Regions from separate parts of the Homo sapiens genome. Here all the other regions are reported to be linked to region 1. Evidence: microRNA targets listed by miRTarBase, many of them from high-throughput screens and not tested one by one. Region 1 holds a microRNA gene; each other region holds the end of a gene's coding sequence.

Region 1 (3,184 bases):
CACATCTGCTAAAGACCTTCAAAAGCAAATTGTGAAGACAAGGAAGGACTACTATATGGGATATTTCCTACTCAATGACTTCAGAATCCAGTAATTACACATATTCTACCTTATCTCATACTTTCAATTAGAAAATTCCAAACAAGGGTCAAGTTTCAAAAATTGCCTTTATAGATATTTATTCCTTGCTTTAAATCTTTTCTGGAAAGAAATGGCTTATTATTTAAAAGTCCGGTTCAAGGGAGGCCACTTTCTCTTTAACTAGCTTTTAGTATACAGAACCATTTTGGAGTTCCCATGAATGTTCCTAAGAGTGTAGGTAAGCCTAGAAAGGTTCAAACCAGTAACATTAATTCAACCAACTTGTCAAAGTATGCTTCATCGGGTGTTCATGACCTTCTTGGTGTCAGTGTCTTTTCTGTCAAGGAGGTTATATAAGTCAATAAATATAACATGCCCAGAATGTATTCAGTGGCTAACAATCACTGGGAATGGCAAAAATGGAACTTTAAAATTTACACTGCTGTTTTCACTGTGATAAATTATCATATGAGGCACTTAAATGAACAAACAAAACTTGGAGTAATGAATCAATGGCTTTCCCAGACAACTGCCATCTTTTGGCATATTAACAAATTCTGAAAAATACTATAATGGAAGAAAAACAGATAGGAAGGAAAAGGGATTTTTACCTTTTGGTATTAATCCATATGGCAAAGAGCAGAATAAAAAAGGTACACACACAAAAAGATATAAGGAAGTATGGATTTTATTAGAGACTTCTTAAGCTTAGAAGGAACAACAATAATACATATATATATAAATCTATAGTTGGGTTGTTGTAAAATCCTTTAACATAATTGACAAAAATTCCATATGATTAAATACCGAAAATAAAGTACTGTGTTAAAAAATTATAGATATTTGCACACTCATGTTTACAGCAGCATTATTCACAATAGCCAAGAGATGGAGGCAACCCAAACGTCCACCAACAGATGAATGGATAAAAAAATGTGGTAAATACATGCAGTGGAATATTATTCAGCCTTAAAATGGCAGGAAATCCTATCACATTCTACAATATGGATGAACCTTGAGGACATTATGTTAAGTGAAATATGTCAGCTACAAAAGGACAAATCCTGTATGATTCCATTTATATGAGGTATCTAAAGTAGTGAAATTCATAGAGAAAAGTAGAATGATGGTTGCCAAGGCTGTGGGGAAGGGGAAAATGGGAGTTGTTTAATGGGTATAGAGTCCCAGATTTGCAAGATGAAAAAATTCTGAAGATCTGTTTCACACCAATGTGACTGGACTTAATCTCATTGAACTATACACATAAAAATGGTTAAGATAGTAAAATTTATATGTGTTTTTAAAAATCACAATTTAAAAGATGCAAAAAAAGAGAGTACTTTGCCCATCCCCCCAAAGACTATAATCTCAAGTCTTCAGGTAGGGTAGGAAATGTACTACCCTAATATATAAAACACAATTAATCAAAAAGTAAAAATGAAAATACCTCTGAAAGAATATTCTCAAATGATATTTTTTAAAAATCACAGTTTAACACTCAACTAAGTGTCTGGATTGAATGTAGACTTCAAAAACTTACTACGTAAACAAGCTATAACTTTTTAACTCTTCACAAATTCCTATTTTCAGTGTTCATAATGAACAAGGTTTAAAAAAGTGGAAAGGCTCCCAAAATACTGAGAACATATATGTATATAAATCAAGGATGGGTTCACTCATTTCAAGCTATGTCAAGAAGTCTATGGGATGAAGCATGTCTGTTGTGATGGATATAGTACAGAACTAACTCCACGGCTGAGTTCTTCAGAGTGAGCCTCTGTAGGCTCATAGTCCTATTTTAAAGGAATAACCTATTGACCCAATTTGCTGGTGTTATAAGCTTGGAGGAATAGCACAATTTCAAGTTCCTTTCACAGGTGGAGTTTCTGATTAGTCTGTGGTTATTTGAAACATGGTCTACACCTACTGCAGAAGCCAGCATTATTAAAAGCATACATTTTCATTGTGCACCATAACTTTTGGATTTGGGGTCGTTTCATACTTTTTCAGAAATACTGTCTTCTAAATTAAACAGAAAAACATCTATGTGAATATAGCGATGCAACAGTTGTGATATGAGACCATGTGATGGATCAACTAGGTCAGAATATTTGTAAAATCCAGAGTGGCAAGGAATAAAAATAGAGAAACTTACTAAAAATCTTCTACAAAATAGTGATGTAAAATGTGACGTATTAACCAATTTCTACTGTGTCATTCTAGCTTGTTTTCATTAACCATAGCAGAACTTCTAAAAGTGAGCTCTAAAATGTGGCAAATTTGATAATAAATTAAGGAAAAAGTCATTAGTCTCCAAAAACAAGAATTGAAAATCATTTGGCACTGAAGCCAGATGGCAAAGACTAAATGCTCTTCAGAAATTATGAACAATTATTCAGTTACATGAGACTGACATAACAGTGTCAAGTAGAAAAACATTTAAGAAAACAGAAACCATTAAATTTGGGGGAGAGTTTAATTTGGAGGAAGAAGTTGATTTTGGGGTTTTTTAGGGCTAAGTTGCTTCAGCTAAAAATATAGAACTGATAATAAACAAGAATAGCTCTCTTCACTGGCAATAATATCTGTATGGAATTTCTATTGCGAGAAATTACTATAATGCCAAAGGCTGGGAAGACTTTGTTACCCAATGTCATCCCTCTAATTTTAGAAGGATTAACCAACCAATTTTTGCTAAAATGTAGGCACACATACCAAAAAATGTGAATCTTGGTGAATATAGGATGTCTGGTAGGCCTCAGGTTATCTTCAGTCTTCACACTCTTGATGTTCCAGGAATGATGCGCGAGCTTAGGTTGGTTCTAGGATAGGCCCAGGGGCCTGGTTTGATCTGGGATCCCTGGGACCATACCTAGAACAAACCCAAACAAAACCAAACTCCTTGGGAGTGCTTTCAGCTCAGGTAGACTTCTGGGCTTTTCACCCATATGGACCTCCACGACTGTACCAGGACCATATACCAACCTTTAAGGGATGGGAGTGACATTTCTGGAGCCTTCTGTACGTTGTCAGCTGATAGTACTGTGCCTGAGTAAGCATTATTTAAGTCATGGTATGAACAGAAGGTAACAGATTGGTGCAA
Region 2 (3,184 bases), not on the chromosome of region 1:
CCGGGTCTGTCAGGAGACTGAGCAGTTCTCACATTAACATTCTCTTATAAATGGTAGGACATGGGAGGATGCTATGCTCGTTATGTTTTCTCGCTTGGAATATCTGCTGCTCTGTCCTCTTTGCTCATCCACATTTTTTGAATATGCCAAACCCCAGTCAAACGTCCGCTACCTCCTCCAGGGAGCTCCCAGTCAGAATGGTTCTCTCTTCCTTGTTGCCTCCAAATACACATGCCTATTAGTTCGGACTCGCTTCACTCCTCTATCTCCCCATCAGATGCCCAGCTTATTGAGGACAAAGAGCCTTTCCAGCCCATCTCTTTACCACACCCCCACTGCTTCCCACGGTGTTTTGCACGTGACATATGCTTGGGGGTTCCAAGACATATATCCCATTACTACATTCACACTATGGACATAGGAAGTGTCGCCATGGGTGGGGAGCTTGTCTCAGTTTGCTGAGCCCAAATGTTTGGCCAGGCTAGAATGGAAGAACTTTGGAGAAAATCTGGAGAATCCAGAGGGTCAGTATGAATTCAGCAGGAAGGACAGTGGTCCCTCCGACAGCCTCCTCTGGATCTGCTCTGCTTCAGCTGCTGTGGAGCTGGTGTGCATGGGTGGCCCAAAGGCAGGGACAAGACATGCTCATATCCTTGGAAGTGTTTTCCCTTCCGGTTCTATGGAGACTCCCAGCTGTCTGAAACTTCAAGTGCCCAAACTCAGTGATGCTTTTGGTTTGGCCCACCAGAGCAGCTGTAGCTATGGCCTGGCCCTTTGAACCAGAAGCCTGGTTCAAATCAACAGTTGAACAAGAAATCAACAATTTCTTGATAAACTTGAGTTTATCAAGTTTTCCTCTTGCACATGCATACCTTGGGCTACTCCTGACCTGCCCTCCCAGTCCATTAGTGCCCCACTTCCCCTTGTAGAGTGTACTTATAGAAAGTGCGAAAGTCTCTGGAAGGATTTCCAAAACACAGATGTGCCTCCAGAATTACATGAACATCTGCTCAGCAGAACTTTCAGACTTGGCATTTTGTCTACATCAGGAAGCAGGATTTACTCAGAGAAGGGTACACTTCTCTTATTCTGAATTTAAAAAAGAATGAGGAAGGAATCATAGTCAGAAGCAGGCCCAAGGAGCCTTAAGAAAAGAAAAGCATGAAATCATGGAAGTCTTTATAAACTCAAGGGAGAGACATTGTCCAGATTCTAAAATTCCACCATACTATGACTAAAATACTTTAATTCACAGCTTTCTTTAAAAAAAAGTATTTCCTCTATGCTTTGAAGTCTCTGTAGAGTGAGAATGACACTATCTTCTGAGTTTGTCCAAATTTATTTGAGTATGGTGGTATATCAGCCCTCTCGGGCTAAAAAAACTATATACAAAACATGCAGATCATCCATGTTAAAAAAAAAACAGGAGAAATATATAGCTAGATTGTTGAGGAAGGAGAAATGTTGGGAATTATAACACTAAAGTCCATATTAGTTAAAGTTCTATTTTTTGCAATGTATTTTTTTAAAAAAATCACTTAATTGCTGTTTGTGAAATAAAACAGAAGCCCAAATGAAATACAATTGTCTTCTGAACAATTTCCACCAACTATCTTTTTGGGAAAAAAAAAAAGAAACTTTCATTGCTATATTTTAAAAATGTCCACAAATGAAAACACAGCCATTGAACACAAAGATTATGTACAATCCCTCCCAAAGAGTATGTGCTAAAAAGCACAAAACAAATCACGACTAAACAGAGTAATCATATTTAGAAAACCTAAGATGTCATTTTCATGATCAAAATAAAGGTGGCTGAGTCATGAATATACTTCAAAAAAGCTTGAACTTTTCTTTGTGCTATAAAAGGATGATCGACAATAACCAAAACTTACATTGTTTGAATCCAAGTTCTTTTTCACCCTTCTCAATGTATAACTTCCTAGTAATATGGGACAGCTACAGAACCATTCATCATGAGCCTTTCATTAGTTAGCCAGGTCCTCCCAAGTAAGGCCACCGAAATAATCAACACAGAGGGGTCACTACATCCCGAGCTAAACCTCCAGCAAAGGAAGACACTGATCAAGCCAGACCTTTCAACTCTCAACAAGCAATGTCCCCTGTGTGACCCAGACTGCAAAGCAGAGCCATCACAATTCCCCCAAAACCCCCCCAGATGTCCAGACCTCATTCTAACCTTTGAAAATCAGAACTCTGAGAGGGAATGCAGGCCTGGGTATTTTTTTGAAGTTCAACAAGGAACTACTGCTTTAGAAACTCCTGATATAATTCTGTATAGTGTTCAGTATTTAAAAAGAAAAAGCAGCAGCCAAACACTAACCCTCATATGTGTGAAGCAGCTTTGTAGTTTTATTCAATGTTGAAACTAAAATGTCAATAAATAAGAAGTAAAAAGAATAGCAAACAGAAATAGCTTACACAGTGTTTATTTGACACTGAAACGAAGAGCTTCTGTACAATAGAAAGCACAGTGTGTGCCTGGCTCTAAGGCAGGATGCTAAGAGAGAGAACCAGGGTCAGCTGGAGAATAGACAAATGCAGAGCTCAGAGAGGTGGGACATCCAGCTCGACGAGGGAGTCTTGGGAGAAGTGAAGCAAAGAAACTTATCTGCGTGAAGATAAAAAGGTGGGAGGAAAAAAAAAGTGGCACAATGAGAAAAAAAAAAAAAAGAAAGGAAACCAAACCAATAGATGAGAGCACTTGAAACACAGACAAGAAGCAGTCATGCAAACCCCACTGCCAGCCACACCCTTGGAAGGACATCCATCTTCCCACCTGAGGCCGTCACAGGCCGCCTTTCGGCAAGGGTCCATTTTAAGAAGACCCATGAACAGAATTTAAAAACAAAAAAAATTTTAAGCTACACTCGTCTTTCAGAATATTTAATCATACTTGATGCAAAAAGTTTTTCCCAAAGAATCACCACATTTTAGCACTGAAAAAGACCTTAGAGACAGATGATCTGCTCCACCCCCTCATTTACAAATGAGGGATGAGAAGACACATTTTCTCTGGTTTCCATGGCAACAGTCATGTCTCTAGAGGCTTTTTTGTTGACTGTGGGGATTCTATAACCTCTAAGGCAGCAGGCACATGCCACTCTCTTCAAGTTACCATTTTTTCTGCATGGGTAAATGAATGACAGGTGGGCTTGGAAAA
Region 3 (3,184 bases), not on the chromosome of region 1:
GGGAGCTCCCACTGACCTACTTTCACCCACTAACTCCTCACAGTCTATGGAAGAGTAACACAGTGGGTCTCAGAAACACATACAGTGTTCACAAGTGCTTTACAGAAGACACAGAGCAAGCAGAGATGGTCTCTGTGGCAAGGCTGGCAAGAAGCTCAATTGCTGCAAAAGTTATTAACTCTGGGTTGGGGTAGAGGGCAATGGACTTTTTACCATTTTTCAGAGCTGACCTGTGAGGATGGCTAGATACTGCAAGAGGATGCCTGGAGGAGGGAGAGGTAAAAGAAATGAGCCAGTAATTTCTTGGGTAATAGTTTTCCTAGATAATGTTTATGAGCATTTGCTATGTACTTGATGTTTTCATACTTAAAAAAAATTAAACCTCACTATGATCCTATCAGGCAGGGACTTTTGTCCCCACTTCACAGATAAAGAAACTGGAGATTTAGAATTTGAAGCCAGGTTGGTCTGCTTTCCATAGCCCATGATCTTAACTGCAAGCTAAACTTACAGGGTCGTCTGAGAATCTCTGTTCTTCCCTGTGCAGTTGAAACAATCAATGTGGCTGTACTTTTGTTGTAAGACCTGGCTCTTTCCGACTCGCTGACGTTTGCCATGCTTGTCCTGAGCTTCTCCAGAGAAATGCTGTCTTCTGGCAGGAAAAGATAAAAACGGCTGATATAAATGAGTCACCACACTCGCTATAATTAACAGTGATGCAAGAGCCAGATGCAAAATAAGAGGGGCCTCTGGACCTGACTTTTAGGCTGCCCAAACTTTGAGCTGCACTTCAATGTAAAACAGTCTCCATAGCTAGGCTTCCATCTGTTTGAGACGCATTTTAAATGAAGAAATAAAACCCGGAATGCATGCAAGCCCCAAGATAATGGAGCTGAGAGGGGCTGCACCAAATTAATCTCCTTATTTACAATTCAAAAACCATACACCAGAACAGAAAGAGAGTTTATAGTTTATAGATAATATAGATCTTTGCTTTCACACTCAGTTGCCCTGGAAAGGCTGAGCAGTTTTCAATCTGCTGAGCTGATTTATAGCAAGTACAGCTGTAAATTCAATTGTACTAGGTGTTCAGCCTATGCCCTCCCAGTGATGTATCTGAACTTTTCAAAAGGACTAGTTGTCATTAACATCTCTCTATTTTCTTTTGCTGATCTGGGATGATGGGATGCAATGACAATCTGCTTAAAATAAACCTTAAAACCTTAAAACATAATCACCACATCATCCACAAACCCCATTCAACCACAGCATGAGCACAATCACTCTGTAACACAAGGTGAAGATATTCTCTGTTGCTTCTAGGACATATAAGTCCCTCCTGAAGTTTGACAGAGAGAAATAAATTGTGGTCAGGACCTGGATAGGCTCACTAGTAGCCGTCGATGTCGGTGGCGTCTTCTCTTACCTGTTTAAAAGAGGCTCAGTGGCCTTGAGATTTGAACACAATACAGCTGATGGAATCTTGCCACTTTCCTTTTGAATAGACTTTAATTGAGAGCAAAGTGAAAAATGCAGGTTACAATTTTAAGTGTTATCATCAATATCTTGTAAGATCAACACCCAGTGATGCATCTAGTACTTATACAGTCCTAATTTTAGTTGTCAAAGAGCAAATCATTATCAGACATATATTTACACAGTAATTTCAAGCAACGGTAAATAATAAATTCCCTCCCTTAAAAAACAAAACACAACACAACACACACACACACACACACACACACACACACACGACCATCTTTAAACAATGGATTTCCTCACCCAGTAAGTCTCATTTTTTTCACATATACTTGTAGACCCAAAGGTCCTTAAGTTACTTAAAAACAGTCTTATCAGTGGAGATCCTGGACCATCCCCTATTTTCTTTTAAAGTCACTTTCATTTTTACAACTTGAAGCCATATACCAGCATGGTTTTTATACACTAAGGACACTCCCAGTGATGAAAATGAATTCCCCTCCATTTGTGCAAGGAGGTATGTACATCTATAAAGACACATATGATTACCACTCAAAAGAGTCAAAAACATACACAAAAAAATCTCAGATCTTCATAGTTTCTTAAGAGCAGTGTGCCAGTGTTCACATTGAATTAACTGAATGGTAAAATTCTTTTAGATTTCTATACAGAGGTACTGGTTAGTTCTGATTTTTTCTTCAGCTGCTTGAAATGCATGAGCTTTAAAAGTTGCCTGGCAGAACTACATCCTGCTTTCCAGGTTAGCAGCCTGGCTGACCTCGGGAATGTTAGACAAGATTCACCCCCGATGCCTTGCTCTCTGATTTATTTCTTGCTGTTGCTGTTAGTAAATGGAAACCATGACAAAGTTTACATTAGCAGACACATACACATGCCCTGGCCTATAAATATTCCATGATAGAAAATGGTACAATAATTCCATCCCCAGCGAAAACGAGCATAAAAAAAGAAGGGAAGGGTCAGGGGGACATGATCAGCTATGGCTCTTCTTACAGTAGAAAATCCACACCAAATGGCAATGGGCTTTTAACTAACCAGACATTGTTAGCTGCTTCTCCAGGGCCTGTGAGTCAACTAAAAGTAGGCAGGGCAGAGACCAACTCTTCCAGGCACACCTGGTAGTTTCCAGAAGCACCGGTATCTTGTCTTGGAAGTTGGATGAAGAAGATCAACTGAAGTTTCCTTTTTAGTGAGGAGGAGTGGAGAGTCAGACTTGAAAGCAGTTCACACACTGTGCTGCCTGGGACACTGAACGGTCCCCGAGGGAGACCCCTCAAAGCGCCAGCTGGAGTTTGGTCATGTTTCTCTGATGCATGTTGTGATGGCGGACTAATTCATCTGACCGGGCAAACTTTTTCTGACAACTTGGCCACCGACAGCTGAAGGGCTTTTCACCTGTTGACACAATTGCCAGTCAGAGACACTTGCAACAAAGAGACAGGCACAAGTTCAACTATCAAGGCCCGAGTGAAGTCATCACAAGGCACCCACTCTGAATTTCCCATCATTCTGTCCCTGAGCTAACCAACTGAGCTCATTTCCCAGGCAGCCTTGAAACAGCAGCACCTCTTGGGGCTTTAAGGATCGAAATATTGTAAAAAGTTATATTCTTAGGTCAGAAAACTTGGAAAGTGGGAGATAAAGAATGAGTCAAGTTGGGGGAAATGTCTGAGCAATTCATAAT
Region 4 (3,184 bases), not on the chromosome of region 1:
TCTGAAAGCAACACTGGATGTATTTTTTGTCCCACTAAAAGAATTGGCAGATCTGCCTCAAAATAAGAGCTCTCAAGAAAGTATTGTTTGTGAATTGAGGTGCAAGTCTGTGTATTTGGGCACTGGCTGTGGAAAAAGCAAAGAAAATGCAAAAGCAGTTGCATCAAGAGAAGCATTGAAGTTATTTCTCAAGAAAAAGGTGGTGGTAAAAATATGTAAAAGGAAATACAGAGGCAGTGAAATAGAAGATCTAGTACTCCTTGATGAAGAATCGAGGCCTGTAAACTTACCTCCAGCACTAAAACATCCTCAAGAATTACTATAATGTGTCCAAAATATCACTGCATACAATATCTGGTATTTGAAGAGAAAAACTGACTTTTGTATAGTATAAAACACAGGCTTTCACAAATTTTGTATTGCTTTTTTTCCAGTTTTGCAGAAAATTTACATTCTAGTTCTCTTCACACAGTAGCAGTTGTAAATAATTTATGAATGACAGTACACATTAAAAGGTATGCATTAGCAGCATATTAGTATGCTGTTTTATTTGCTGAAGAAAATACTGTCTTCTATTTTTAATGATACATTAGGTACGATGTGTAGTTCGGTAGAGTCCTAAAATTTTTGTACTACTTTCAATTTGGTGAAAATGTATTAAGTTGTCTACCATGTTTTCTTTTCTAGCTGAATAAACCACATCAAAGGAAAGGGACCACAGTATTTGAATGTTTGAAAGTCTGTAAAGCTTAAGGTTTTAAAAATGTTGCCCGTAATGTTGAACGTGTCTGTTAAAAAATAAAAGAAAAAATAGTTGCTTCAAACTATTTTTATGAGAAGTTGTAAGCATTTTTTAGATATAAAGCAGTATAAAGTACTTGTTATTTTACTCTGAAGTTGTTTAAAATTCACCATGACTTTGACCGCTGAAGATTCTTTAAGCGGGTTAATTTATGTTTTGAGGTGGAATACAATTTACACTTTTTTCTTAAAAACATGAATGTGGGTTTCTATATTAAGCATATTTTGTGACTACTATTAACAGATTGATTTGTTTAGATATTAAATGCTTTAAGCTATTTTACCTTTTCAAGAAGTTGTGTTTTTTTTCTCCAAGTCAGAACCAATTCCTGCAAATAGGCTTCCCATGACTTGTCATTATAAATTAGACAACCAGGTAATTGTGTGATATACATCTTTATTTAATTTTTTTTTTTACAGCAATCCCCTGAGCCAGAATAGATTAAAAGCGATTCCCTTCAATTTTCAAATCTAGAACTGGATGGTTTTTGTGTTTATGCATCTTTTAGAATACCGGAAAGAACAGAGAGCCGTGTTCAGCTCTTGATAATGAGCCTATTCAATTTAACTACATTCGTTAAAATGAAGTGGAATTTTGTTTTCGTCTTAGGTGATTCTGCCTGTTTGTCTGTCATTGTATATTCTGTTTACTTTGCTTCAAACTGGCCCCAAGATGTTATTTTTGTGGTTTCTGGCTTTCTAGATTCTATTTTTAGATACTGCCCATTGAGCAATAATGGTGATAATATAGAGAGAAAAGAAAGACCTTTCATGGGCCAGTTGTGTTGGAATAGGAAAATCAAACGTAAGCACAATTTAAGTATGTAGCAGTTATTCCTATTTTGTATTCTAGGAATAAAAAGATACTTTAATTTTTTATGCTAGAATTACATAATTACATAATCAGATGTTTTAATTTTACCATATAACCTTTAAAAATGATTCATTTTTGAGGATATTTAATTGGATACCAAAGCTAAAATCCATATACTGTAAGTGGGTTGCCTTTATAGATTGCGGGACACAATAACATGAATGTATTGTGAAAGCACTTTTAGTTACCTCACTTTCCTCAGTCTTGGAATGTGTATTTTGTGGGATAATGATTATCAGAAAAGCAAAAAATTACAACGAACAAATAAATTTATATAATATATCCAATTAGGTGGTTTGGTAATTTCCTAAATTGGCTTGTTTCAAGTTACTATGAAGGTTATTGAGAATGTTTTATAGTGACTTTTGATGTGGAGGAAGTTGTTTAGTGTACATTTATGATAATCCTATTTAAAAACCTAGAAAAATGCTCTTGGTTAATAACATTTAAAGAATCCTGGTTTAAGAGAAATGCATATTTTAGAATTCTATTATTGAGAGTGAATCTTGGCTGTCTCTTACTAGACATGTAACCTCTGGGAATTTAACCTTTTAACCTTACTTCGTCTGTGAAATAGGACTAATAGCTGTCTCATAGAGCATGGCAGTTAGATGAGATGATACATTCAAAGTGCCCGGCATGGTGCAGATATCCCATGGTTCACTTATATATTCTTATTCCTCTTACAAGGAGCTCTTCTCATTTGGCCTACTTTTCAGATGGAGAAACTTACACAGAGTAATTCGGTCAGATAATTCAAGCCCATATCTGATTTCAAAACCCAAGCTCAAGTATGTTGTACTGCTTATTATCCTTGTCACTTCTCTATATGCTGAAATTTCTGAAAATCCCTCCCAGAACGTGATTTTTTACCAGATTAAGTGACCGCATCTTTCTAAAGCCTCCTTGAAATGAGTCACTTCAGAGGCTCTTCTATTATTAATGCTTCTAATACTTGCATATCTTGAATATCCTCAACTAGTGAATCATCCCATATGGATGCAGTTGAACTTTGTAAAAAGACCATACACACACAAAAGAAATCTGCACAAAAAACCCCCCAAAACCAAAAAACCAAACACACCTGCCTAAAATAGTGTATAATCAAGTTGAGTGAATAAAGTCGGCTACCAAGATGGGATATACTGCTTTTTTCAGATGAGTGAGGGGAGACGATTTCCTGAGACATCAAGATTTTTCTTGATGTTAGAATGAGATTTTTTTTTTAATGGTAAAATTAGTTGACTTGTAAGAATGATACTGTCATGAGTTTTTGACCTAAATTCTTGGAGCCTGTCACTGCTGTCATTGGCTAGGATAATTGTCATAGGGATATGTGTAACTTTAAGGCCTTTGATATGTATTATCAGGAGCCTGCTCCAATTTGAATTATGTTTTCCCTGCCAAGTGCAGCTTTTCTTGGTACAAATTTCTACTTGCTGTTTAGATTTTTGAGTAACAGCAGTGAGAAAGTAACAAAAACAAGCCGCAATTGGGAATCAGGTCAGT

The links. The annotated mature microRNA hsa-miR-3685 reads UUUCCUACCCUACCUGAAGACU and lies in region 1 at 1,453-1,474, opposite strand. An mRNA with a match to its seed (bases 2 to 7 or 8) in the 3' UTR can be bound and repressed. Matches are read on the target gene's strand: a 7mer-m8 pairs with bases 2 to 8, a 7mer-A1 pairs with bases 2 to 7 and ends in A, and an 8mer does both.
Region 2: miRTarBase lists TPM1 as a target of hsa-miR-3685. The part of its 3' UTR that is shown has no 7-base or 8-base seed match.
Region 3: the mRNA of WT1 is a reported target of hsa-miR-3685. The part of its 3' UTR that is shown has no 7-base or 8-base seed match.
Region 4: miRTarBase lists CDKN2AIP as a target of hsa-miR-3685. Seed matches in the 3' UTR shown: 7mer-A1 at 1,593-1,599.

The regions. Positions count from the first base shown.
Region 1 is chr12:95,308,218-95,311,401 of GRCh38, reverse strand. MIR3685 (microRNA 3685) reads right to left here and starts at 1,479; the gene lies at 1,418-1,479. MIR331 (microRNA 331) reads right to left here and starts at 2,982; the gene lies at 2,889-2,982.
Region 2 is chr15:63,065,344-63,068,527 of GRCh38, reverse strand. TPM1 (tropomyosin 1) reads right to left here. Exons shown (of 10, transcript NM_001018005.2): 10 at 2,350-2,632. The coding sequence ends at 2,629. Among named protein-coding and RNA genes, the nearest start is that of TPM1-AS, 18 kb to the right of the region's middle.
Region 3 is chr11:32,386,285-32,389,468 of GRCh38, forward strand. It overlaps WT1 (WT1 transcription factor), which reads right to left. Exons shown (of 10, transcript NM_024426.6): 10 at 1,491-2,895. The coding sequence ends at 2,774. Among named protein-coding and RNA genes, the nearest start is that of WT1-AS, 48 kb to the right of the region's middle. RefSeq lists enhancers at 589-733, 611-959, 611-868 and a cis regulatory region at 653-670.
Region 4 is chr4:183,447,103-183,450,286 of GRCh38, forward strand. CDKN2AIP (CDKN2A interacting protein) reads left to right here. Exons shown (of 3, transcript NM_017632.4): 3 at 1-1,962. The coding sequence ends at 325. Among named protein-coding and RNA genes, the nearest start is that of CDKN2AIP, 4.1 kb to the left of the region's middle.